Homo sapiens: one gene and its partners. The protein of the gene in region 7 interacts with the protein of the main gene of each other region in a pairwise test. Each region holds a gene or a part of one and is shown on either strand. Other genes may lie near its edges.

Region 1 (3,500 bases), on a different chromosome or scaffold from region 7:
GCACCCACAACTGGACTGTGTACATGGGCCCTCTTTAGGAGACTACTGTTTTAAAGAGTAAATGACAAAATTAAAGTCCTTTTTTTTTTATTCCATGCATATTTTGATAGGCAGGACAGGAAGCTTGAGGCCATGTGGATTTTGTAGTTTTATACAAGAGCATTCTTATTTTTAGTAGAACACCAATGAACATAAAGAGAGAAAACCTTGTTCATATACAATGTGTGGTTCCAAATGTTCTTATTGAAGACTTGAGACCTAGATTGGCATTAGGAATTTTTAATGTAATCATAACTTAAAATTAGTCACCTTGATGGCTGTCTTTGTCAGTGCTCCTCCTGGAGCACACTGACTTCTGTTGCTGTCTTTCTTCCCTTTGCTGCGCCTGGGTTCAGCCTGCTGCCACGAATACGGAGTCAAATTTTGCCTGCACACAGGCCCTCAGAAATCAGCTGGGCCGTTAGAGCCTGGTGCTTTCTGGATTGTTTTTCCCCCAGCTTGAATATGATTGAACATGAATGCCTTGTCAGAGCCGTCATCAGCTGAGGCATTCATAGTACGTAGGGATTTTTTTGGTGTCTTTAAAGAAGTGGTGTTCAGCCCTGGCTGTACACTAGAATCAGCTGGGGAGACTCTGGCAGTATAACCACCAGGCCCAACCCCCAGAAATTTCTGTTATGTTTGGTCTGGGTGGGATCAATGATTCTTAAAGAAAGAAAGAAAGAAAGAAAGAACGTTGCTCTGGCCCAGGTGATGCTGATTTGCAGTCAGGATTGGAAGTCACAGCTTTAAAGCATGGTCTTCCCCGTATTTGCTGAGGGCCTCTGAAACAGTGGCCCTGGGTTCTGCTTCCTATCAAGGGGCTGCATGTGTGTCCTGGGGCAAGTGGTGGTAAGCTTTGATTCCTAAGCCCTGATTTCTGATTTCTCTTTCTTTCCCCCATTAGAAGGATGAGATTATAAACACAGCTCCCTTCCTAAACATTAGGATCTCTCTTTTAGAGCAGTCAGCCTTTGAATATATACCAAGAACGGGGAAAGAATTCCAGTCATTCACAAAAAGGTTTCAAATGCTAAAAATGTTTCAAATGCTGCTTGGCAGTGATGTCACTGTCCTTCTCTTTCCAGTGAGTGTTGCAGAGAGCTGCTGGACACAGTGGATAACTACGCCGTCCTCCAGCTGGATATAGTGTGGTGTTACTTCCGCCTGGAACAGCTGGAATGCCTTGATGATGCAGAAAAAAAATTAAACTTGGCCCAGAAATGCTTTAAAAATTGTTACGGAGAAAATCATCAGAGACTGGTCCACATAAAAGTATGTTCCTGGAATTCATCTTATGTCTCGTTGAGTCCATTTCTAGCATTTGTGTTTATTCCTGTTAAAGTATTTGAACTACTGCCAGAAGGTAATTTCATTTTGATAGTAGTATGCAGTATAGTCTTTTTAAACTATATATTTATAAAGTGTTCAATGTTTTACAAATCTGGCTGTCTCTCTTACTTAGCGTGTGAGCATTTAGCCCAAAGGAACATGGTTTGCTAGTCATAGAACCCCATCAGTGATCACCCTGACCAGGAGAGAGCTGCTGACTTCTTTATATCGGTAGAGTCTAATTTGCAAGATGTAAATGCAGAAAATAGACATTTCAGCAGTAATGGTTTACGTGAATGAGTCACAGCTCAAGAGCTGTGGCTCGAGTAAGGATTTTTCTGATTTCCCCAAGTCATCAAAATCCTGCTGATGCAGACTCTCTGATACCTGGTTTGGATTTCTGCATACTTCTCTGCTGACCAGAAGGGCCACTGTGCTGCATGTCTGGAGGCTGGTGCCCTGACACTGACTCTCCTGTGTGGCATGAGGAATGTTATCATACCACAGGGGATGGGGAAGAGGGGGCTTCACTTTTGCCGTCAGTCATAGTGAAGCCATGGACATTTTAATACCTATCATGTTGCCCCTCTGGAGACCAAGGGAATGACAGAGATGAGTATTATAGACCTGTAATTAGAAATAAGGCAATTTTATCCTTTTTTTCTTCAATAATTTTAGGGAAATTGTGGGAAAGAGAAGGTACTGTTTCTAAGACTCTACTTACTTCAAGGGATCCGAAACTATCACAGTGGAAATGATGTAGAGGCTTATGAGTATCTTAACAAGGTAAGAAAAGTAAAGTTGTAACCAATTTTCACCTCCTTTTAAAAAACATTCCCAGAAGTTAAGGATTTTAACTTAGTAGTTTGTGACTTGTGAGAAACATGCCTGTGCTTTCTCCGTGCACAGGAGATGTTGAACCAGAAACATATTTGTATATGTTAGAGTACAGCCAGATGCTGTAATGAGACTTCAAAAAGACAGTGACTTTAATTGGATAGAAGTTTATGGCTCACTCATCTTGCCGTCTAGAGGTGAGCCAGGCCGGAGCAGTGAGCAGCCCGCCAGCCTCAGCGAGGCGTCCTAGGTTGCTCCTGTCAGTGCCTCTTCCAGCCAGCAGAGGGGGCAAGAGAGAGTCCAGAGCAGGCCACTGGAGAGATGACCCCGCAGCTGCACCCAGCGCTGTGGCTGCATGCCATTGACTTCGACTTCACTACCTGGCTACACCCAGCTGCAAGGGAGGGTGAGAAATGCCACGTGCACAGCTGAAATTCGGGGGCTTTTGTTGCAAAAACAAAGTGGTTACCAGTCACTTCTGCAACACCCAGCCTCTTACCTCGTGTTGTGCTGTGGCTAAGTTATGTGAGTAGAGGTAGTGTTGGTCTGTTTCCATTTGTACTTGTTAATAACAGGCCTAGTTTAGAGATTTTATCCAAAATCTGATGCCTTTTAATTCACATTGGATACAATCTAATTTCTTTTAGGCTTTCACTTTGTATTAAGCTTTAAGTATTGCCGTGGTTACATGATTCTTACATTTCCCTGTCTCTAGGCACGTCAGCTCTTTAAAGAGCTATATATTGATCCATCAAAAGTGGACAATTTGTTGCAGTTGGGGTTTACTGCCCAGGAAGCCCGGCTTGGCCTGAGGGCGTGTGATGGGAACGTGGATCATGCGGCCACTCATATTACCAACCGCAGAGAGGTACCCACTTTCACATGCCCTAGCTCTCTTGGGTATGAAAGAACAAAAAAAGATAATCCCACAGGAGTGTTAATAACCAGGAACTCTTTATTACTCCAGATTGGGAAGGAAGGAGAAACTTGTCCTTTTTTTTTTCTTGAGACAGAGTCTCACTTTGTCATCCAGGCTGGAGTGCAGTGGCACGATCTTGGCTCACTGCAAGCTCCGCCTCCCGGGTTCAAGCAATTCTCGTGCCTCAGCCTCCTGAGTAGCTGGGATTACAGGTGTGTGCCACCACACCTGGCTAATTTTTGTATTTTTAGTAAAGATGGGGTTTCACCATGTTGGCCAGGCTGTTCTCAAACTCCTGACCTCAAGTGATGCGCCCACCTCAGTTTCCCAAAGTCCTGGGATTACAGGTGTGAGCCACCGCGCCTGGCCGAAA
Region 2 (3,238 bases), on a different chromosome or scaffold from region 7:
ACCAAGCCAGGTTATTTTTTGTATTTTTAGTAGAGACAGGGTTTCAACATATTGGCCAGGCTGGTCTCGAATTCCTGACCTCAGGTGATCCACTCTCCTCAGCCTCCCAAAGTGCTGGGATTACAGGCATGAGCCACCGCGCCCGGCTCCAAATCTGCTAGTTTCTATTAGCATGATCCCGTGCATGTGACTTGACCTCTCTGTACCTCGGTTTCCACATTTGTAAAGTTGTGATCAGGTCATTGTGAGAATTTACTGAGACTTTGCAGCACTGCCTGGTGTCAAAACACATAAAGACTCTAGAATCAGAGTGTAAGGATTTGGACCCTGCCTCTACCATGTAGCAGCTATGGGATTCTGGGCAAATCACATAACTACCCTGTGCCTCAGTTTCCTCATCTGTAAAATGGAGATAATCAGTTCCTATGTCATAGGGTTCAAATGAGAGGTTGGTATTAATAAAGCACAGTATCTGGGATGAGGTAGGAAGTGCTGTGTCAATCAATGTTCAATGACTGAAGTGTTTAGTCCCATCTCTGATACTTTTACTTTTAAATGTTCGCTGTTAATGATTTTTATTCCATGGTGTTTTGCTGGGACCTGTACAAACTCCTGGGAGGAATTTTGCGAGAGCCAGTGCTAAGTTTGCGATCTCTTGCCTCCTGGGGCCTGGCAGGAATCATAAATTCAGGGTAACCTTTTCTTACCTGTGCCCACTCCTGCCTTATAGGAAGATAGGCCTGGGTGGCCAGATGTGCTGATCTTTTCAACAGAAGCCATAATTCAGGAGTTTTCAGGCAAGATGTCTCATTTTAAAATTTTAGCCACAGATTCAGACTATATTTCTTTTTTTTTTTTTTTTTTCTTTTTTGAGATGGACTCTCATTCTGTCGCCCAGGCTGGAGTGCAGTGGCACGATCTTGGCTCACTGCAACCTCTGCCTCCCAGGTCAAGCGTTTCTCCTGCCTCAGCCTCCCGAGTAGCTGGGATTACAGGTGCTTGCCACCACGCCTGGCTAATTTTTGTGTTTCTAGTAGAGATGGGGTTTCACCATGTTGACAGGCTGGTCTTGAACTCCTGGTCTTAAGCAATTCTCCCATCTCAGCTTCCCAAAGTGCTAGGATTACAGGCATGAGCCACCGTGCCTGGCCTTCAAAACATATCTCTAAAAGCACTGTATAGGCCAGACAAATCCAACAGAGGGTGACTTTGGCCCATGGGTCAGAGATATCAGAGGGAGGCTGCATCATGCTGTGGTGGGAATCCTGGGCTTGGCTCCAGGCCCTGGACTTTGCAAACATATTGTTACCACCTTGCTTGGATCACTTATCCAAGCCCTTGACTTAGCTCATAACTGCCCTGTTGACTAGGGATTACTAGACCCATTTTGAAGATGGGGAGACTGAGGCTGAGGGAGGTAGTGCGGCTTGCTGAAGGTGGAGGAGGCCAGACCAGAACCCAGGCGTCTTTTTTTTTTTTTTTTTTTTAAGTCTTGCTGTGTCACCCAGACTGGAGTGCAGTGGCACGATCTCTGCTCACTGCAACCTCTGCCTCCCAGGTTCAAGCAATTCTCGTGCCTCAGCGTCCCGAGTAGCTGGGATTACAGGCATGAGCCACCACACCCAGGTAAAATTTTTTTGTATTTTTAGGAGAGACAGGGTTTTGCTATGTTGACCAGGGTGATCTTGAACTCCTGGCCTCAAGTGATCCACCTGCCTCAGCCTTCCAAAGTGCTGGGATTACAGGTGTGAGCTGCCGTGCCTGACCTAAGGAAAATATTCTTTAAAAATTCAGACATCAGGCTGGGCGCAGTGGCTCACGCCTGAATCCCAGCACTTTGGGAGGCTGAGACAGGTGGATCGTGGATCACGAGGTCAGGGGTTCAAGACCAGCCTGGCCAAGATGCTGAAACCCCCTGTCTATTAAAAATACAAAAATTAGCCGGGCATGGTGGCATGCACCTGTAATCCCAGCTACTCGGGAAGCTGAGGCAGGAGAATCACTTGAACCCGGGCAGCAGAGGTTGCAGTGAGCTGAGATCGTGCTACTGTACTCCAGCCTGGGTGACAGAGCAAGACGCCATCTCAAAAAAAAAAAAAAAAAATTCAAACAGCATGGAATAGATAAAAATGCAAGACTGGGCGCAGTGGCTCACGCCTGTGATCCCAGCACTTTGGGAGGGTGAGGTGGGTGGATCACTTGAGGTGAGGAGTTCAAGACCAGCCTGGCCAACATGGTGAAACCCTGTCTTTACTAAAAAAATACAAAAATTAGCAGGGCGTGGTGGTGAGTGCCTATAATTCCAGCCACTTGGGAGGTTAAGGCAGGAGAATCACTTGAACCCGTGAGGTGGAGGTTTGCAGTGAGCCGAGATCGCGCCACTGCACTCCAGCCTGGGTGACAAGAGTGAAACTCGGCCTCAGGAAAAAAAAAAAAAAAAAGCAACAGACCTTCTGTCTCTCTTTAAACGGTGACTCTGTTCCCTAAGGGCAACCCCAGGGGTGAGAGTTGAATGGGCATCAATTTAATGGGTTCGTTTCCCAGCAGCATCAACTAACCTGGCTTCACGAGAGCCTCCCTGGAGGATTCTGGATGATTCTGGGAGCAGGTCCTGGACTCTACGTGCTTCAGTGGGAATCTGGACACGTTTCTTATCCTTTGGGCCTCAGTTTCCTCATCTGTAGAATGGGAATGACAACAGTACCTACCTCATGGGGTTAAGGCTCAGGCCAGTTAACACCCTAAGGAGCGATGCCTTGGATGTCGTAAATGCTAGAAAAGCATGAGTTGTTATGAATAGGTCCTGGTGCCCCCCACCTTCCTTCCACAAACCAAGACAACCAAGGAGCCACACCTGCCACCTGGCTTTGCTCTCTGAGGTTTCAGTGTGTCTGCAGATCACAGATCACCCCAGGTGGCACTTTCAGGGAGCTGGGGACTGAAAGGGGGCTGGCAGATGTCTTCTTCCCTGTCCCATGATGTCCTGTCCTGCTCATGAATGATGGTTGTCAGTGCTCCCTAAATGGTGGCCTGTGCTGAGCACATGGGGACCCCTTTATAGATGCTAACTCCCATTTCCTCACTCATTCAGGAACTGTGCTAGGTGCTAGGGCCACGGGGTGAACAAGAAGTAGGATCCCAGCCCTCACAGAGCTCAATTGCTGGTGCGAGTGGCCAGGAAGGAGATAAGATGGGGTGATGTGACAGTCCTGGGGGAAGGATGGCCAGGGAGGGTCCC
Region 3 (3,500 bases), on a different chromosome or scaffold from region 7:
ATTTTGCTTCATTACAACTCCATTTTTAAAGAAATTGGAAGAATTAGAAAAAGAAGAAGAGCTGAGAACAGCTGCTGGAGAGTATGACAGTGTATCTGAGAGTGAAGACGAAGAGATGCTGGAAATCCGACAGCTGGCAAAGCAAATTCGAGAGAAAAAGAAGTTGAAAATTCTGGAGTCCAAAGAAAAGAATACACAGGGACCCAGGATGCCGCGAACTGCTAAGAAGGCAAGTTTGTGTCTTTCCAAAGCAGTGTGATCTAGTTTTTGAAAATTGGATTCCTGTGTGATCATTGCTAAATAACAACTTTTCAACCCATTTATGGCCATAAGATTGCACATTCTTGTTTTATTGGTGTATGGATTTGCAAGATCGCTCACGTATTGATCTTTTATATTCTTTACTGCGTCCTTTCTTGGTGACTTTCAGCTTCGAGTTTGGCACTACTCTAGATCCAGTCATTTTGCAGTTGTACAGATTAAAACTGTAACTTATGGTTCACAGACGTTCAAGGCTATCAGTGAACATTTTCCTCTTCTTTTTTCTCTCTCTCTTTTTTTTAGGGGGGAGATGGAGTCTTGCTGTGTCTCCCAGGCTGGAGTGCAATGGCGCCATCTTGGCTCACTGCAGCCTCCACCTCGCGGGTTCAAGCAATTCTCCTGCCTCAGCCTCCCGAGTAGCTGGGATTACAGGCACCTGCCACTACGCCTGGCTAACTTTTGTATTTTTAGTGGAGATGGGGTTTCACCATGTTGGCCAGGCTGGTCTCAAACTCCTTACCTCAAGTGATCTGCCTGCCTTGGCCTCCCAAAGTGCTGAGATTACAGGCGTGAGCCACCACGCCCGGCTGGTTTTCTTGTTCTTTAATTTCTGCATTAAATCTGGACTCTTTAGGCCGGGCGCAGTGGCTCACGCCTGTAATCTCAGCACTTTGGGAGGCTGAGGTGGGTGGATCACGAGGTCAGGAGATTGAGACCATCCTGGCTAAAACAGTGAAACCCCGTCTCTACTAAAAATGCAGAAAAATTAGCTGGGCGTGGTGGCGGGCGCCTGTAGTCCCAGCTACTCGGGAGGCTGGGGCAGGAAAATGGTGTGAACCCGGGAGGCAGAGCTTGCAGTGAGCCGAGATTGTGCCAGTGCACTCCAGCCTGGGCAACAGAGCAAGACTCCATCTCAAAAAATAAAAAATTTAAAAAAAAATCTGGACTCTTTAGCAATTTACAGAAACCTGACGCAGTCTACAAAAGGCAATTTATTGGCTCTGTGGCAGGGTGGGACTGGGGGAAGAAAGCCCACATGCAGGGCAGTTAACATGTAACCAGAGAAGTCACTTGACATTCAGGATGCCTCTCAGTGGGTCTTCCTGTTTGAATACACTGTTTTCACATGGTGGCAAGTGACTGGTTATGGCGGACTTGGACATTTTTGTACTTCTCCAGGTGGGGCTCAGCCATCTCTGGGAGGAGAGAGGTTGGCGCACTGCCTTTGTCTGAGGCCACCTCACTAACCTCAGCTTTAGTGTCTCACCTCTGATGGAGACGGTCACTCTCTCCCCCGTGTTGCGGTGAAGAATGGACAGACGTGGAGGATACGCTGATTCTTCCCACAGCAACTGCTCTGTTAATGTTAGTTTTCGTGGGATTTAATTGAGCTATCCAAAAACATGAAAGCGGGGCCCAATAAAAATTACAACTTCTAAAATAAGTATATTATAATTGTTGCAAAATATGTATACATATATATTGCCTTGAAGTTTTTTTCAACATTTCATCAAACTAATTTAAAGCTAATATTTCTTTTTATCCTTCTCAGGTTCAGAGGACAGTTTTGGAGAAGGAGATGCGTAGTCTTGGTGTTGACATGGACGATAAAGACGATGTGAGTGTGGGGGCGGTTCATGTGTTTATGTGGCTGGATACACCTTTTTAATAAAGAAAACTGGCCGGGCGTGGTGGCTCATGCCTGTAATCCCAGCACTTTGGGAGGCCAAGGCGGGCAGATCATGATGTCAGGGGTTCGAGACCAGCCTGGCCAACATGGTGAAACCCAGTCTGTACTAAAAAAAATACAAAAAATTAGCCGGGCGTGGTGGCGTGTGCCTGTAATCCCAGTTACTCAGGATGCTGAGGCAGGAGAATTGCTTGAACTTGGGAGGCAGAGATTGCAGTGAGCTGAGATCGTGCCCCTGTACTCCAGCCTGGGCGACAGAGTGAGACTCCATCTCAAAAAAAAGAAAGAAAGAAACCAGGGTTTTGGAAAGCCGTGGGAACGTGGGAAATTACAGCAAAAAGAAATGAGAGCTTCCAGTTTTTCTCTTTTGAGATTCGCTGGCCCTGGGACTGACTTGAAGTGATGGGTTGAGGATTCCCTGACCCTGGGTCTGGGTTGAAGTGGTGGATTGAGGCTGCACTCCAGCCTGGGCAACAGAGCAAGACTGTGTCTCAAAAAAAAAAAAGCTCCACAGCCAGCACGAGACAGCACCATGACGTGCCCAGGGTGTGGCTGCAGACCCTGTCCTCTAGATGTGCAGTCTGCAGTTTCCGTCTGATGGTTTCTGTCTGATGGTTGTCCCTTTGTGTTCATATCAGTAACCCCCAAAATGGGGCAGTGAGGGAGAGAGCATTGTTTATATCTGAAATATAAATTGTGATGCTATACTATAATAATCACTTTTAAATGAGAGTTCTAAGTTTCTTTAAGTGGAGTTAAAATCAGCTTTCTTACGTAAAGCAGCTTCCGTTAAGTGAATAAGAATATTTGACCAACAACTAATGTGAAATTGTTACTAATGTGAACTTGAAATGGTGTCACTAATATGAAAATACTGCGTGTATTTTCAAGACCTTTAGCCCATGTGTTAATGGTTCAGACGCTCCTCTCCTCCCCTCTTGCTGGAGTGACCTCATGCCTGTCGCTGAGCCTGGGTGCGGGGCTGGGGTCCTGAGCTCTGAGCCTGGGAGTGGACCTGGGGTCCTGAGCGCTGAGCCTGGGAGTGGACCTGGGGTCCTGAGCGCTGAGCCTGGGAGTGGGGCTGGGGTCCTGAGCGCTGAGCCTGGGAGTGGGGCTGGGGTCCTGAGCTCTGAGCCTGGGAGCGGGGCTGGGGTCCTGAGCGCTGAGCCTGGGAGCGGGGCTGGGGTCCTGAGCGCTGAGCCTGGGAGCGGGGCTGGGGTCCTGAGCGCTGAGCCTGGGAGTGGACCTGGGGTCCTGAGCGCTGAGCACTGAGCCTGGGAGTGGACCTGGGGTCCTGAGCGCTGAGCACTGAGCCTGGGAGTGGACCTGGGGTCCTGAGCGCTGAGCATTGCTTCCCCTGCTTTGCAGGCCCATTACGCAGTCCAGGCAAGAAGATCCCGGAGCATCACTAGGAAAAGAAAGCGGGAAGACTCTGCTCCCCCGTCCTCTGTGGCCCGGAGTGGGAGTTGCTCTCGAACTCCACGTGACGTTTCTGGTCTTAGGGATGTCAAGGTCAGTCTCTGTGTTGTGTAATGTAATAAAATGACAG
Region 4 (3,500 bases), about 56 Mb from region 7:
TATTTGCAAAAAGGGTCTTTGCAAATGTAGTCAAGTCAGGGTGTTTTCATGCTGGGGTGTTTTCAGATGGGGCGCCCATCTGAGGACTGATGTCCTCAGAAAAAGAGAAGGCGCGGGCACAGAGGGAAGAGGCAGCGTGAACATGGCGGCAGAGGGTGGAGAGGCAAGTAAAGGAACCATGAGGGCTTCCGTAGTCCCCAGAAGCTGGGAGAGGCAAGGCAGGTCCTCCCCTAGAACCCTTGAAGGGAACACAGCCCGGCTAACACCTGGATGTTGCACTTCCGACCTTCAGAACTGTGAGACCCCCATCTCTGTTACTTTAAGTCTGTGGGATCGAGTTGCGGCAGCCCCAGGAAACGGACACACTCCGCCTACAGGCTGCTGTGCTTGGGGCTGTGGATGGGAGCGGGGAGCGCACTGGGAGGGAGTAAGCAGGGGTGGGGCAGGGCCTCAGGGCGCCTCCTTTTTTCCAGGGCCACTGGCCGGTCCCATGCACCAGTCAGCATCCACTGGCTCTGCACCACCATGGCAGGCTGAGCCCCACAGGAGGCAGCAGCCACCCCTCTGAGGCCTAATGTCCCTGACTCAGTGGGCCTTTGCCACCTTAGGCCTGGGACCCGGCAAGCAGGTGACAGTCAGAAACCTATGTGGGCTGGAAGTTTAACTTGTCCAAGCAAAGGGAACACCAGTGATGCATGGTGACCCCTGAGGCACAGTAAACTTGTTCTGCATTCCAAATAAAACCTAACAAACCCTACACTTGTCTTGGAGAGCCATGCTTTTGGAAAAAGCAATTACACCATCTGCTTTATTATATGACTTTCTGACCCGGGACGAGTGTGACAGGGGATCATCATGTAAAAAGGAAAGAGCATTTCAGAAGCTTGGCGCAGATGCCCATTACTGTGGAGGAGGCCCGTGTCTTGGGCTGCCCAGGGGCCTGCATTCAGGTAGTGGAACCTCTAGGCTGCACTCCAGACAGCCAGATAATCCTGTACCTGATGTCCACCCCATCCTCGATATCTTATTCCACAGGGTCTTTTTCAAGAAGACTCACCCTCTTATTTTCTGATCAGCTGAATTACTCTGTGGGTTGGAAATGCTGAGACCAGAACCACTGATAGGCTCTGAAGCCCCGGCTTGGTCTGATGGAGCCCCTGGTTGTGGGACAAACAGTGGAGCAAGTCCATGGGCCGTGACAGAGGCTGAACCAGGCTGGCACAACCAGACCTTCTATGGCCAGGATCGCTGGGCAGAAAGCACATGCCACCAGCATGGTGTTTGAGGGTAAAGAGACAAGCATTTCAATGTCGAGTAAAAAAAAAAGTTAGCCAAGTTCTGTTTTGTCCTCATTAATTCATCTTCTTTTTTTTTTTTTTGAAATGGTTCCTTGCTCTGTCACCCAGGATGAAGTGCAGTGGCGAAATCTCAGCTCACTGCAACCTCCATCTTCCAGGTTCAAGCGATTCTCATGCCTCAGCCTCCCGAGTAGGTGGGATTACAGGCATGCACCACCACACCCGGCTAATTTTTTGCGTTTTTAGTAGAGATGGGGTTTCACCATGTTGGCCAGGCTGCTCTCGAACTCCTGACCTCAGGTGATCCACGAGTCTCGGCCTCCCAAAGTGCTGGGATTACAGGCATGAGCCACTGCACCCGTCCCTCATTAATTCATCTTAACCAGAAGAGAAATATTCAGTCTCACAAAAAAAGAAAAGAAAACCAGATGTTGTGTTTTTCTTTCATTAACTCTACAGCGACTTTATCCTTCTAGGTGATTCTATATGAACACACCAGATAAGATTAAAGCCCACCCCACCACATCAGGGGAACAGAAAAGTTTCCAGCAAGAAGGAAAGAAACCTGCTGCTCTTTGCTGAACAAATGTGCTGCAGCTGCTTCTCCCAAGTGCATGGTGTAGACAAATCGTAAGCAAGACAGAAGGGGCTGCCAGAGATGAATAAAATTTCGGTTACCTCTTCCATTCGGAAGGAACGGAAAATGTACACGTAGTCGCCCGGGCGTCCAACAAACCTGAAACGATGGGGGAGGTCGTTAGAGAAAAGATGAGCCCCTGGCTCAGCTCGGGGAGAGACCCCCAAGTGGGGACTGTGCAGCGTGTGAGTCCTGCAGGCTGAGCCTCGAGGGTATCTACAGGCGGCTCTCCCTGCCTGGTGCATCTGCTAAAAGATGACCACAGTGGTTTTCATTGGTCAAAGGTTGGATTCCCAAACCCAGAGAGGGGTCAGAAAAAGGAACTTCTTCAATGAGAGGCCACGAGACTGAGAGGCAGCGGGAAGGGGCCCAGGAGGGGATTAAGGCAAAGACCACCCGGCCTGAAGACTGCAAGCTGCTGCGCTAGCTGCCTGGGACTCAGGATGTGCCGCTGGCACGGTGGGGTCCATGGACAGCTGGCACAGAAGCACTCTGGGGACCTTGGGCAGCTGGGGCAGGTGGTGGCCAAAGGCCACCCTGGGTGGGGATAGACAACCTCTCGGCTTTCTAGGGGCTGGTGTGGGGCGTGTAGGCTTCCAAGAGCTTGCTCCATCCTGGATGCGCTCAGGGGGCACTGGACCCCTTGGCGGGGCCCTGGGACCCTGGGCCAGGAGGGCGGGCATGGCACTGGTGAATCACATGATGTGGAGGAGGCAGCCTTTTTGGGGGCTCTGAGATCAGACCAGCCAGTCCCTTGCAGGAGTGGTGGTGGGGGTGGGGGGCATCATTGTGGGTGGGCCGCAGGCCCCACCGCAGCCTGGGATGGCTCCAGAGGGCCCAGGCGTGGAAGGTTTCACTCCTCCAGGAGCTGTGAAGAGGGCTCAAGTGGCCAGCAGCCGCATTTCCACACCCTCCTCTCTCCTTGTCCCCACTTTGTGGACTCCTCCCTACGTGGACTCCTCCCTACCTGCCGTGGGAGCACCTGGAGCTGGCTTCTGGGGTTCTCTGCCTGGACTTCCTGCTGCTGGAGCTTCCCACTGCCTGGAGTCCCTGGGGTCCCCTCTGCCCAGGGTCCTCACTGCCTGGGGTCCCCACTGCCCGGGGTCCCCACTGTCCGGGGCCCTCACTCCCGGGTCCTCACTCCCCGGTCCTCACTGCCTGGGGTCCCCACTGCCCGGGGTCTGCACTGTCTGGGGTCCCCACTGCCCAAGGCCCTCACTCCCGGGTCCTCACTGCCCGAGGTCCTCTCTGCCCAGAGTCCTCACTGCCCGGGGCCCTCACTCCCGGGTCCTCACTGCCCGGGGCCCTCACTGCCGGGTCCTCACTCCCCGGTCCTCACTGCCTGGGGTCCCCACGGCCCAGGGTCCTCACTGCCCAGGGCCCTCACTCCCGGGTCCTCACTCCCCGGTCCTCACTGCCTGGGGTCCCCACTGCCTGGGTTCCCTGCCACCTGGACTCCCTGCTGCCCAGGGTCCCGCTGCTCTGGAGCCTCAGCAGGGCCCAGGCCTTCTCCCTGACCCTCTTTGGCTGCGGGTGCCACGGTGTCTGCCCTGCCCTGGGCTCCA
Region 5 (3,500 bases), on a different chromosome or scaffold from region 7:
GAGTTTATTGCCAAGAATGTTCTAGATTCTAAGAATTTTTTAAAGAGTTTTAACTTTTGACTCATTGATTTCCTGTTAGCTCATCTTATATATTAATTTTGTGTAATCAAGCAATTAATAAAATATAAAATCATTAATCAGAATGAACTATATTCATAGTCATGGTTAATAGTTGCAACAAATTGTGTGTATATTTTTAAGATATATAGCTGACTTTCTATATATTCCTTGTAGGTAATAATGGAAGTTCTAACAGGATGTAGAGTAGTGTTAGATGATCCAAAACATATCCAGCTGGTAAGAATTGTTTTCATCCTGGCACCTATCTCTTGGTCATTTTTTGATCAAGTTCTCTGTGATAAAATTGTCTCCCTCTCTTCCAAGCGGGATCTCCTTAGAGAATTGATGGAGAAGAGAGGCCTGGATTCATGTCTCTCATTTCTAGATAAGAAAGTGCCTCCCTGCCCTCGGAATTTCTCTGCCAAGCTCTTCTGTTTGGCAGGCCGGTGTGCTGCAACGCGGGCAAAGTTAAGACCATCAATGGATGAAGTGAGTATATACATGGTTTTATTCAAAACTGAGCCCACAGAACCATGGAAAATCTAAACTAGATAAATTGTGTATCTAAGTGAATTATTTGTTAATGAGACAAATCCAGCCTCCAACAGAGAATTCCAACATAATAGTGTTTCCAGGTCAAAAAGCCACATCATTTGGTACTCTGTTAGAGGTCATTTCTAGGTGGAACCAAGACTCCACAAAAAATTTAATGTAAAGACATAAATGAGCAGTTTGCAGGGAATATTTTATTCAATCTTTTTTTTTTTTTTTTTTTTTTTTTGGAGACAGAGTCTCACTCTGCTGCCCAGGCTGGAGTGCAGTGGCACGGCCCACTGCAACCTCCACCTCCCCAGTTCAAGTGATTCTACTGCCTCAGCCTCCCAAGTAGCTGGGATTATTAGGCACGAGCCACCACGCCTGGCTAATTTTTGTATTTTTAATAGAGGCGGGGTTTCACATGTTGGCCAGGCTGGTCTCGAACTCCTGACCTCAAGTGATCCACCCGCCTTGGCCTCCCAAAGTGTTCAGTCTTCATTAAGAGATCTGGCTCATTATAAATGCAGCATATATTTTCCTTATCCATTTTTTTAAATTTATTAATCTATCCATAGACTTAATCACCCATTCATTTATTTGTTTATTTGCACAAATAAACAAATAATGCCTACTCTGTGTGTGCCAGACTTTGTATTGGGTGCTGGGAATATATCAGTGATCAAGATGCAATGACTACCCTCAAGCTCACTGTTAAGAGGAGTCAGATCAGTAAACATAGAATGTTGGTCCAGCAAGAGAAACATGATGATAGACAGAAGGCCAGGTTGCCGTGGAGCATGAATTCAGAATACACACCAGCCCATGGAAGTTAAGGAAGCTTTTTGATAGATATGACGGTTTAGCTAAGATCTGAAAAACAGGTTGGATTTAGGCAGCAGTAAGGATGGAAAGACATCCCAAGCAGAGAGAATGAATACCTGCAAAGGCTCCAAGGTGATGGAGCCCATGGTGCTAAGACCACAGATAATTCAGCATCATGGAGGGGGAGCAGTGAGGGAAAGCCTGGAGTGGTTAAAATAATAGAAGCTTCCATGACAGAGGGACATGAATTCCATTCTAGGAGTTTGGATTTTATCCTGAGTCTATCATAGAGCCATGCAAGGGTTTTAAACAAGGAGTTGACATAATCAGAATATAAACAGCACTGGCCTTCGAGGCAGGAGAGCTGTATTCCAGGCCTGACACCACCCGTGAGAGTTGTGTGGAGCCAAGGGCTCAGGAAGGAGCTATGACATATATCGTGCAGGGACAGAGAATTGGAAGCCCGGAGATCCGGTGTCAAACAGCAGGTCTGTACCTTACTGACTAATGATACTGCTTCCCTTTTCTGAGCCTCAGGCTTTATCATCTATAAAATGAGAATGATTAATGTTGTTTGTACAGGTTAAATGAGATAATATATGTGAAAGCACTTTGTAAACTGTAAAGCTCTCTATATGTATTTTTTTAATTACGTGTGTGTGTGTATATGAAGGTATGTTGTATGGTGTATTAATTACATCAAGGGTTCTCACATCTAGCTGTACATCCAAATCATCCGAAGCTTCTAACATACAGATTCCTGGACCTTCAACACCTTATGTTTTGAATGACAATCTCTATGTTGGGACCAAGGGATATGCACTTTAAAAGAGCTCCCTAAAACTTCTGGCATTTAGTCAGGGGCCCTGGCTCACGACTGTAATCCCAGCACTTTGAGAGTCTGAGGTGGGTGGATCAGCTGAGGTCAGGAGTTTGAAACCAGCCTGGCCAACATGGCGAAACCCCATCTCTACTAAAAATACAAAAATTAGCTGGGCATGGTGGCACGTGCCTGTAATACCAGCTACTTGGGAGGCTAAGGCAGGAGGATTGCCTGAACCTGGGAGGCGTAGGTTGCAGTTAGCCGAGATTATCCCACTGCGCCACAGCCTGGGCAACAGAGTGAGACTCCATCTCAAAAAAAAACAAAACAAACAAACAAACAAAACAAGAACAACAACAAAAAACTGGCATTTAAGAATTACAGGTTGGGCCCACCATTTCCTTATTCCCTTCCAATCTTCCACATATTATGGTTGAAGTAAAAAATGTAGAGACTTGCCCAAGTTCACAAAGCTAGTTGGTGGCAAATCTGAGGCTTAAGTCAGGTCTCTTGGTATTTACTTTAGTGTAGTTTCTTTTATACCTGGTTTTAAGTCACTTAATTTACTCCTCAAAATAAAGGGCGTTAGCTAATCTTTAAGATCCCTTCTAATTCAAAATTCTATAGCTGAACTAATTTCATGAAAATGAAAGAATATTCTTTATAGGTAGAGTGATAAAAGGTAAAAGGAAAGATTATTCAAACTTAATTTAATGTCTGTTTGCTTCTTTGTTATTAGGTTTTAAATACTCTTGAAAGTACTCAAGCCAGCTTGTATTTTGCTGAAGATCCTCCCACATCACTAAAGTCCTTCAGGTGTCCTTCTCCTCTATTCCTGGAGAATGTACCAAGTATTCCAGTGGAAGATGATGAAAGCCAGAATAACAATTTACTACCTTCTGATGAAGGCCTGAGGATAGACAGAATGACTCAGAAAACTCCTTTTGAATGCAGCCAGTCTGAGGTTATGTTTCTGAGCTTGGACAAAAAGCCAGAGAGCAAGAGAAATGAGGAAGCTTGCAACATGCCCAGTTCTTCTTGTGAAGAAAGTTGGTTCCCAAAGTATATAGTTCCATCCCAGGACTTAAGGCCCTATAAGGTAAATATAGATCCTTCTTCAGAAGCTCCAGGGCATTCTTGCAGGAGCAGGCCAGTGGAGAGCAGCTGTTCCTCCAAATTTTCCTGGGATGAATATGAACAGTACAAAAAAGAATAAATTCTACCAGAAGATAAAGAAAAAAGCAAGTATTGCATAGGC
Region 6 (3,500 bases), on a different chromosome or scaffold from region 7:
GGCAGGAGAATGGCTTGAACCTGGGAGGCAGAGGTTGCGCCATTGCACTCCAGCCTGGGCAACAAGAGCAAAACTCTGTCTCAAAAAAAAAAAAAGAAAGCCCTTTCCAGTGCTCCTTGTTGCTTCTTATCACAGTCCACACATTTTTTTTTTTTTTTTTTTTTTGAGATGGAGTCTCGCTCTGTCACCCAGGCTGGAGTGCAGTGGCGCCATCTTGGCTCACTGCAAGCTCCACCTCCCGAGTTCACCCCATTCTCCTGCGTCAGCCTCCTGAGTAGCTGGGACTGCAGGCACCTGCCACCACGCCTGGCTAATTTTTTTTTTTTGTATTTTTTAGTAGAGATGGGGTTTCACCGTGTTAGCCAGGATGGTCTCGATCTTCTGACCTCGTGATCCGCCCGCCTCAGCCTCCCAAAGTGCTGGGATTACAGGCGTGAGCCACCGCGCCCAGCCAGTCCACAGAATTTAACTTGGGTTGCACCTGGACTGGACACCACCTAGTTTAGCTCTCTCGTGCCTTGCACAAAGCTGGGTAAACATACATTTTGGTTGAATGGCTTTTCCAGATGAGTCACAGAGGTCAGAGAAAGGTTAAGAGGCTCACTCGAGGTAGGTCATCCCTGCCCCTCCTGCCAGCCCCTGGCCTTGACTTTCCCAGGGCTTTGGTTACCTCGCAGAATCCCCCTCCCCAGAGTCTCAGAGATGGGGGCTGCTTTAATTATCAAAAGGATCCTTTGATATAAGCAGAAATGGTATAGTGTAAATTCTGGAGGTGGAATGCCTGGGTTTGAGTCTTGGCTTCATTATCTACTAGCTATGTAAGTGAGTAAGCCACTTAACCTTTCCGGGCCTCAGTTTTCCCCATCTTTAACACAGAAATAATAATAATAGCTTTCTCATGAGGCTATTGTGAGGAATGTGGTAAATGAGTCGTAAATGAGCTCCAAAATCTAAAGCATTTAGAACAGTATGTAGTGCACGGGTAAGTACCATTACTCTTCTCATCTCTATTTCACATCTGCACAAACTGAACTCAGGGAGCATCAGTAACCTGCCCAAGGCTAGCAAGTGGCAGAACAGGACCTGACTCCCAAGCTTGCCCTACTGCCTCTATTCTATTGCTTCCCTTGAAACCTCCCAGGATCAAAGTGGTGCTCCCAGCACCTGCCCCCACTGCCTCATGTACCTGTGAGTTTCCACTTCCAGCCAAAAGCTGGATCATCTGCTGCATGAGTTGCTGCTGGGCGCTGGAAGCCCCTGTTGGAGAAGATGTGGCTGGCGTGGCTGGTGAGGAAGTGGGGGCCTCGGGCGTAGACCCTGCGTTGCTGCCTGCTGAGGGTGCTGGGGTCCGGGATATCCCAAAGGAGCCAAGGCTGTAGGCAAGAGAGACCAAGAGGTAGGAGATGGCATCCAAGAAAGGGATGAGAATGTGAGATCCAGAAGGAAAAGCAGTTGGAAGAAACAGGAAAACAGACCCTCAGAGACACAAAGGATGCTGAGAGAGTGGCAGAGAGAAGAGTTGAAGGGGAGAAGTTGCTAGAACCTTGCTGCCCTCCTGCCCCCCTACCCTCACCTGGGTACCAGCCCAGGGGCCTCGGTCTGCAAGGTCTGTAGTCCCTGCTGGATCTGCAGCAATGCCTGCATGGCTCGGGGATTGGTAAGGATGGAGAGTGACTCTGGGTTCTGCATCTGGTGGGAAATAAGCAGAGAAAGGCATCAAGAGGTGGCAGGAAAGAGGAGACAACCTCAACTAGGAGTCCAGAGTCAAGCTCTGCCCCAACTTCATTTCCACCCATTGGGCTTCAGGGACTACCCCTTGCCCTCAACCTCCACCCATCTAGGCTCCTCACTCACCTGCTGCAGGAAGACTGGGAGCTGCAGGCGGAGCTGCTCCTGCAGTTGGGGGTTCCCCGCGAAGAGCGGCACATTCACCATCATCTGCCAGGGTGAAGGTAGCAGGGGGAGACCTGGGCCTTTTCACCCTAAGAATTCCCCCACAGCCTCAGACTCCCTGGGCACCCCCTACCACTGCAGGAAATCTGGCCAGCTTCTCCGGGGATCTCAAAGTATCCTGAAGGCCTAAGTGGGACAGTGAGAGGAAATGGAACTATGCTCTGGGTAATGAAGAGTATGAGGAGTCAGCCTGCTCAGCCCTGGGTCTGATGATGATGAGGACAGCTAACATTTCCAGGTATACAGAACTTACTCTGTCACACGCCATGTTCTAAGCACTTAACGTGTATTAACTCATTTAATCCTCACAACTATAGGAGGTAGGAACTATTGTTATTATCATCTTACAGATAAAGAAACTGGGAGGCTAAATAACTTGCTTAACTCACACAGCTGGGAAGCAGCAGAGCTTGGGATGCAAACCCAGGCAGTCTGGCTCCACAGTGTTTTGACCACAAGAAACTGCCCCCAACCAAGAGGAACTCTCTCCCCAACAATACTCTCCTCATGCTGGTTTCATACCTGAGCAGCAAAGTCGGGGTTCTGGGCAAGCGTCTGCATCATGCTGCGCATGTAGGGTGCTGAGATCACATTCTGCATCAGCTGGGGGTTCTCAGAGATCTGCTGGAGGAGGGCTTGCATTTCTGGGCTATTGAACATCCCTAGGACAAGGCGGAAAAAAAGAAAACAGGAGAGAAAGGGTCCAGATGGAAACCGAAGGCCTCACTTCAATCTACCTTACTTCAGACACCGAATGACTACAAAACTCAGAAAAGCAATGGTCCAGTGGGCACCCTAGGATTGTGGCATGAGTCCAAGTCTCTCCCAAGTCCAAGGTCATCTTGCCCTGCTTTGGCCTGGCCCCTTTTCCATTTACTTGATAAGGACAAGCCAGCTAGGAACTGGGTCTGATTTATGCCTCTCTGGACTGTTCCTGCCATAAGCTCAAATTATGTCCAATTTGGAAAGAAATGATTAAATATCATCTAGATCAAACTTGTCTTAGCAGCAGAGACCCTTTCCTCATGCTAAATCTCACTCAGAAACCAAGTGTGTTAATGGTCTGGCTGGAGCTGGGGCAGGAGGGCTGCAGCCTCTCCCATTGGGTCCTTCCTCATCCTGGAGATGAAGACCTTTCCAGGATGCAGGAGCACAATTTTAAAATCATGGATCAAGTTCCAGTCCTTACTTTACAAATAAGGAAACTAAAACACACAGAGGGAAGGAACTTTCCCAATCAAGATATCCCCCAGAGTGCAGAGAAATTAGAGCATCTGCTGAAGACATCCCCCAGGCCATGTGTACAGTCATAGTCCAGATAAATGGAGCATCCTCTAGGGTTGTGCAGTGCATAACCTGTTCTTCTGTACATGGCAAGCCCTGCACATCCCTTTCCCCCAGCCTCACATCTGCCTCTCCCCAGGTCTGCCTTGATTCCTCTCCAGCCCCCTCTCCCCACAGCAGTCTGAACCTTTTACACTGGATAATACCAGAGGTGCTCATGGAGCTTAGGAAGTGGGGCCTGGTTTACTCATGAGCTATTACTT
Region 7 (3,500 bases):
GTAATCCCAGCACTTTGGGAGGCAGAGGCGGGCACATCATCTGAGGTCAGGAGTTTGAGACCAGCCTGGCCAACATGGTAAAACCCTGTCTATACTAAAAATAACAAAAATTAGCTGGGTGTGGTGAAGTGCGCCTGTAATCCCAACTACTTGGGAGGCTGAGGCAGGAGAATCACTTGAACCCAGGAGGCAGAGGTTGCAGTGAGCTGAGATCGTGCCACTGCACTCCAGCCTGGGCAACAGAGTGAGACTCTGTCTCAAAAAAAAAAAATGTTTTTCTAAAGTGAATCAGTATTATATTTTTTTATCTTTTCGGTTTGTACTGTATTGACTATTCTTAGCGACAGTGACATACTCATTTTAATTTGAATATAATTTACATTTCGTGGAAAATTATTATACCAATTGAGAATAAAAGGTGATCTGATTCTAGAAAATTATCACCATATTTGTTTAATCCATGAGAATAATAATGGTTATAAAAATAAAACCCCATGGCAGGTAAATGCAGTGCTGATCTTGGATCAGAACAACAGCAACAACAAATTTCTATGAAGGACATTATTGGGACAGATTGAGAAATATGAATATGGTGTGTATATTAGTTAATAGTATTGATCAGTGTTAAATTCTCTGATAATTATAATGTGGTTATATAAGAAATTATCCTTACCCTTGAGAGAGATACACTAAAATTATCAGCAGTAAAGAGCAAATGTGGGCCAGGTGTGGTGGCTCATGCCTAAAATCGCAGCACTTTGGGAGGCTGAGGCAGGTGGATCACCTGAGGTCAGGAGTTCGAGACCACCCTGACAAATATGGTGAAACCCTCCCTGTCTCCATTAAAATACAAAAATTAGCTGGACATGGTGGTGTGCAACTGTAGTCCCAGCTACTCAGGAGGCTGAGACAGGAGAATTGCTTGAACCCAGGAGGCAGAGGTTGCAGTGAGCCAAGATCTTGCCACTGCACTCCAGCCTGGGTGACAGAGCAAGACTCCATCTCAAAAAAAAGAAAAGAGCAAATGTGGGAAGATATTAACTGGTGAATGTAGGTGAAGGATATACAGGAGTTCACTCTTAGAACTTTTTTATCAGTTTCGAATTGTTTTTAAGTGTGCATCTTTTAAATGTTACATTTTCCTATGGAGTCAAATAATATCACATTTAACGAAATTGTTAATAATTTATGAATGTTATCTAATACCAAGTCTATATGTAGATTTTCCCAGTTATCCCAAAAGCCCTTTTTGTTTAGTTTGCCCATTTTGTGACCATGTATCGTATTTGGTGGTTATGCCCTTTCAGTCTCTTAATTTTGGACAGTATCTTTTTTTTATGACACTGATTTGTTGAAGAGACCAGACCAGTAATACTATAAAATGCCCCTCTTTCTGGATGTGTATGGCTACTTTCTTACGTTGTTTAGCTTGTTCTTTGACTTCTGTTACTTTCTATAAACTGTAAGTTGGAGCTTTAGCTTTAGCTTGACAGAGTCAAAGTAAACATTATCAGTTTGAATGTGTCATGTGCTATTATTTCATATTGCAGTGTATCAGGAGACCCAAACTATCTAGTTCTTCCACCACTAGTGGTTTTGTTATTGATTAAAGAATTAAAGTGATGATAGATAAACCCCACCATTCTGCAGTGAAGATTTTTTTCCTGTGACCAGAAAGATTGGTGTTAATTCTTGATTTTTTCTTCTTTTTTAGGATCTGGTTATGGATATCCTAAGAGTATTGAGCACACCAGACTTAGAAGTACGAAAGAAAACTCTGCAGTTAGCACTGGATCTTGTCTCTTCTAGAAATGTTGAAGAGGTAAAAGGAAACTCTGACAGCACTTTGTAGCTATCAGGCCCAAATATGATGTAACTCTCACTTATTTTTACTTCATTCTATAAGCTGGTTATTGTCCTGAAGAAGGAAGTGATAAAAACAAATAATGTGTCTGAGCATGAAGATACTGACAAATACAGACAACTCCTAGTGCGAACATTGCATTCCTGTTCTGTCCGATTTCCAGATATGGCTGCAAATGTTATTCCTGTGGTATGTAATTCTGATGACTTTAATTTTGAAATTATCTAAAAGAATTTTTTAAAAAATATAGTTATTTGACAAACTCCAGAAATCTCAGCTGCCTAGAACCATTAAATCTCATGGTGAGAAGTGATCTTTATATCTACCTCTACCTTTAAACTCAGAAGGGTGAGGACTGACTTCTTTCACTTATATATTCATCAAAAAAACAAAAACAGTGACCAAAAAAAAGCTTTGCATATTATTTTAATTGATGATACAGTTACCTAAAGTAAAATTATGCTGTGTATATATATTATTCAGTAAGGCAAATAGGTATTTATTTTAAATAGCTTTAGCTCTTAAAGGAATCAGTTATAGGAAAAATTCACATATGTAGAATATTTTGCTGTCACTGTCAGATAAGTGAGGTATGTTATTATAATTTGATTTTTGCCTTTGAGCTCTTGAGTTCTCTCTAAAATGATTTTAGTTACAATTTAGGAGGATCGAATTCATTTATTTATTTGGAGTTTTGGATCTCTAGCTTATCTTTTATAGTGAATTTTAAAATAAATTTTGCTGCACATAAAATGGAAAAGCCATTGTGACTTTGTTTACATAATAGTACTTGTCTCTCAATTTACATTTTGTTGTGTATTTGAAAATTATTAAGAATTACAAGGGTCAGGCATGGCACTTCATGTCTGTAATTCGAGCACTTTGGGAGGGCTAGGCAAGAGGATTACTTGAGGCCAGGGATTCAAGACCAGCCAGGGCAATATAGGGAGACCCTGTCTCTACAAAAAAATTAATATTAGCTAGGCATAGTGTCATGCCTGAAGTCCTAGCTCCTGGGGAGGCTGAGGCTGCCAGAGGATCACTTGAGCCCAAGAGTTCAAGGCTGCAGTGAGCTATGATTGTGCCACTATTCTCTAGCCTGGGCAGCAAAGCAAGACCCTGTCTCTTAGAAAACAAAAAAAGAATTACATTCTTTTAATTTATTTCTTGTCCTAGATAATTTTCTTTTCGAAAATTGTTAGTTCCATTTTCTTTTTTTTTTTTTTCTTTTAGTTAATGGAATTTCTCAGTGACAACAACGAAGCAGCAGCTGCTGATGTCTTGGAGTTTGTTCGTGAAGCCATTCAGCGCTTTGATAACCTGAGAATGCTTATTGTTGAGAAGATGCTTGAAGTCTTTCATGCTATTAAATCTGTCAAGTAGGTTTAAAATACATTTAAATGTAAGGTCAAGTAAGCATTTTATCAGTTTTTATCTTTAAAGGGTCAGTTGATAGAAAATAGAATGGAGAGGACAATCAAGCCAAAATAAGACAAGTTTGTACAACAAGCATCTCGCTAACTCCACTCTCATTTAGTCTATAATAAATGGCCCAAAATAATTTTTTTAGGAGTGATTTAGCTCAGGGTCTCTATTCTGATTTTCTCTAAAACATTGTGAATCTTAAAGTAACTAA

The links.
Region 1: the proteins of COPB1 (region 7) and NUB1 interact in a two-hybrid assay, tested with the Homo sapiens proteins (one large-scale study listed by BioGRID and IntAct).
Region 2: the proteins of COPB1 (region 7) and KDELR1 come close enough for resonance energy transfer, tested with the Homo sapiens proteins (one study listed by BioGRID).
Region 3: the proteins of COPB1 (region 7) and GTPBP4 interact in binary tests that used the Homo sapiens proteins (3 or more experiments, as listed by UniProt).
Region 4: the proteins of COPB1 (region 7) and ANO1 interact in a two-hybrid assay, tested with the Homo sapiens proteins (one study listed by BioGRID).
Region 5: the proteins of COPB1 (region 7) and IRAK3 interact in a two-hybrid assay, tested with the Homo sapiens proteins (one large-scale study listed by BioGRID and IntAct).
Region 6: the proteins of COPB1 (region 7) and UBQLN4 interact in a two-hybrid assay, tested with the Homo sapiens proteins (one large-scale study listed by BioGRID and IntAct).

What each region holds. Positions count from the first base shown.
Region 1 is NC_000007.14:151,365,812-151,369,311, forward strand, and holds part of NUB1 (NEDD8 ultimate buster 1), read left to right. Parts: intron 1-1,127; coding exon 1,128-1,314; intron 1,315-2,049; coding exon 2,050-2,157; intron 2,158-2,923; coding exon 2,924-3,076; intron 3,077-3,143; exon of another isoform or gene 3,144-3,500. UniProt on the Homo sapiens protein: Specific down-regulator of the NEDD8 conjugation system. Recruits NEDD8, UBD, and their conjugates to the proteasome for degradation. Isoform 1 promotes the degradation of NEDD8 more efficiently than isoform 2.
Region 2 is NC_000019.10:48,385,314-48,388,551, reverse strand, and holds part of KDELR1 (ER lumen protein-retaining receptor 1), read left to right. Parts: intron 1-3,238. UniProt on the Homo sapiens protein: Receptor for the C-terminal sequence motif K-D-E-L that is present on endoplasmic reticulum resident proteins and that mediates their recycling from the Golgi back to the endoplasmic reticulum.
Region 3 is NC_000010.11:1,012,434-1,015,933, forward strand, and holds part of GTPBP4 (GTP-binding protein 4), read left to right. Parts: intron 1-31; coding exon 32-229; intron 230-1,813; coding exon 1,814-1,879; intron 1,880-3,319; coding exon 3,320-3,463; intron 3,464-3,500. UniProt on the Homo sapiens protein: Involved in the biogenesis of the 60S ribosomal subunit. Acts as a TP53 repressor, preventing TP53 stabilization and cell cycle arrest.
Region 4 is NC_000011.10:70,161,817-70,165,316, reverse strand, and holds part of ANO1 (anoctamin-1), read right to left. Parts: intron 2,035-3,500; coding exon 1,977-2,034; coding exon of another isoform or gene 1,824-1,976; exon of another isoform or gene 1,612-1,823; intron 1-1,611. UniProt on the Homo sapiens protein: Calcium-activated chloride channel (CaCC). Plays a role in transepithelial anion transport and smooth muscle contraction.
Region 5 is NC_000012.12:66,244,714-66,248,213, forward strand, and holds part of IRAK3 (interleukin-1 receptor-associated kinase 3), read left to right. Parts: intron 1-234; coding exon 235-297; intron 298-384; coding exon 385-549; intron 550-2,981; coding exon 2,982-3,458; 3' UTR 3,459-3,500. UniProt on the Homo sapiens protein: Putative inactive protein kinase which regulates signaling downstream of immune receptors including IL1R and Toll-like receptors.
Region 6 is NC_000001.11:156,040,299-156,043,798, forward strand, and holds part of UBQLN4 (ubiquilin-4), read right to left. Parts: intron 2,616-3,500; coding exon 2,476-2,615; intron 2,080-2,475; coding exon of another isoform or gene 2,062-2,079; exon of another isoform or gene 1,955-2,061; intron 1,939-1,954; coding exon 1,855-1,938; intron 1,690-1,854; coding exon 1,574-1,689; intron 1,374-1,573; coding exon 1,187-1,373; intron 1-1,186. UniProt on the Homo sapiens protein: Regulator of protein degradation that mediates the proteasomal targeting of misfolded, mislocalized or accumulated proteins.
Region 7 is NC_000011.10:14,479,312-14,482,811, reverse strand, and holds part of COPB1 (coatomer subunit beta), read left to right. Parts: intron 1-1,714; coding exon 1,715-1,822; intron 1,823-1,906; coding exon 1,907-2,053; intron 2,054-3,097; coding exon 3,098-3,243; intron 3,244-3,500. UniProt on the Homo sapiens protein: The coatomer is a cytosolic protein complex that binds to dilysine motifs and reversibly associates with Golgi non-clathrin-coated vesicles, which further mediate biosynthetic protein transport from the ER, via the Golgi up to the trans Golgi network.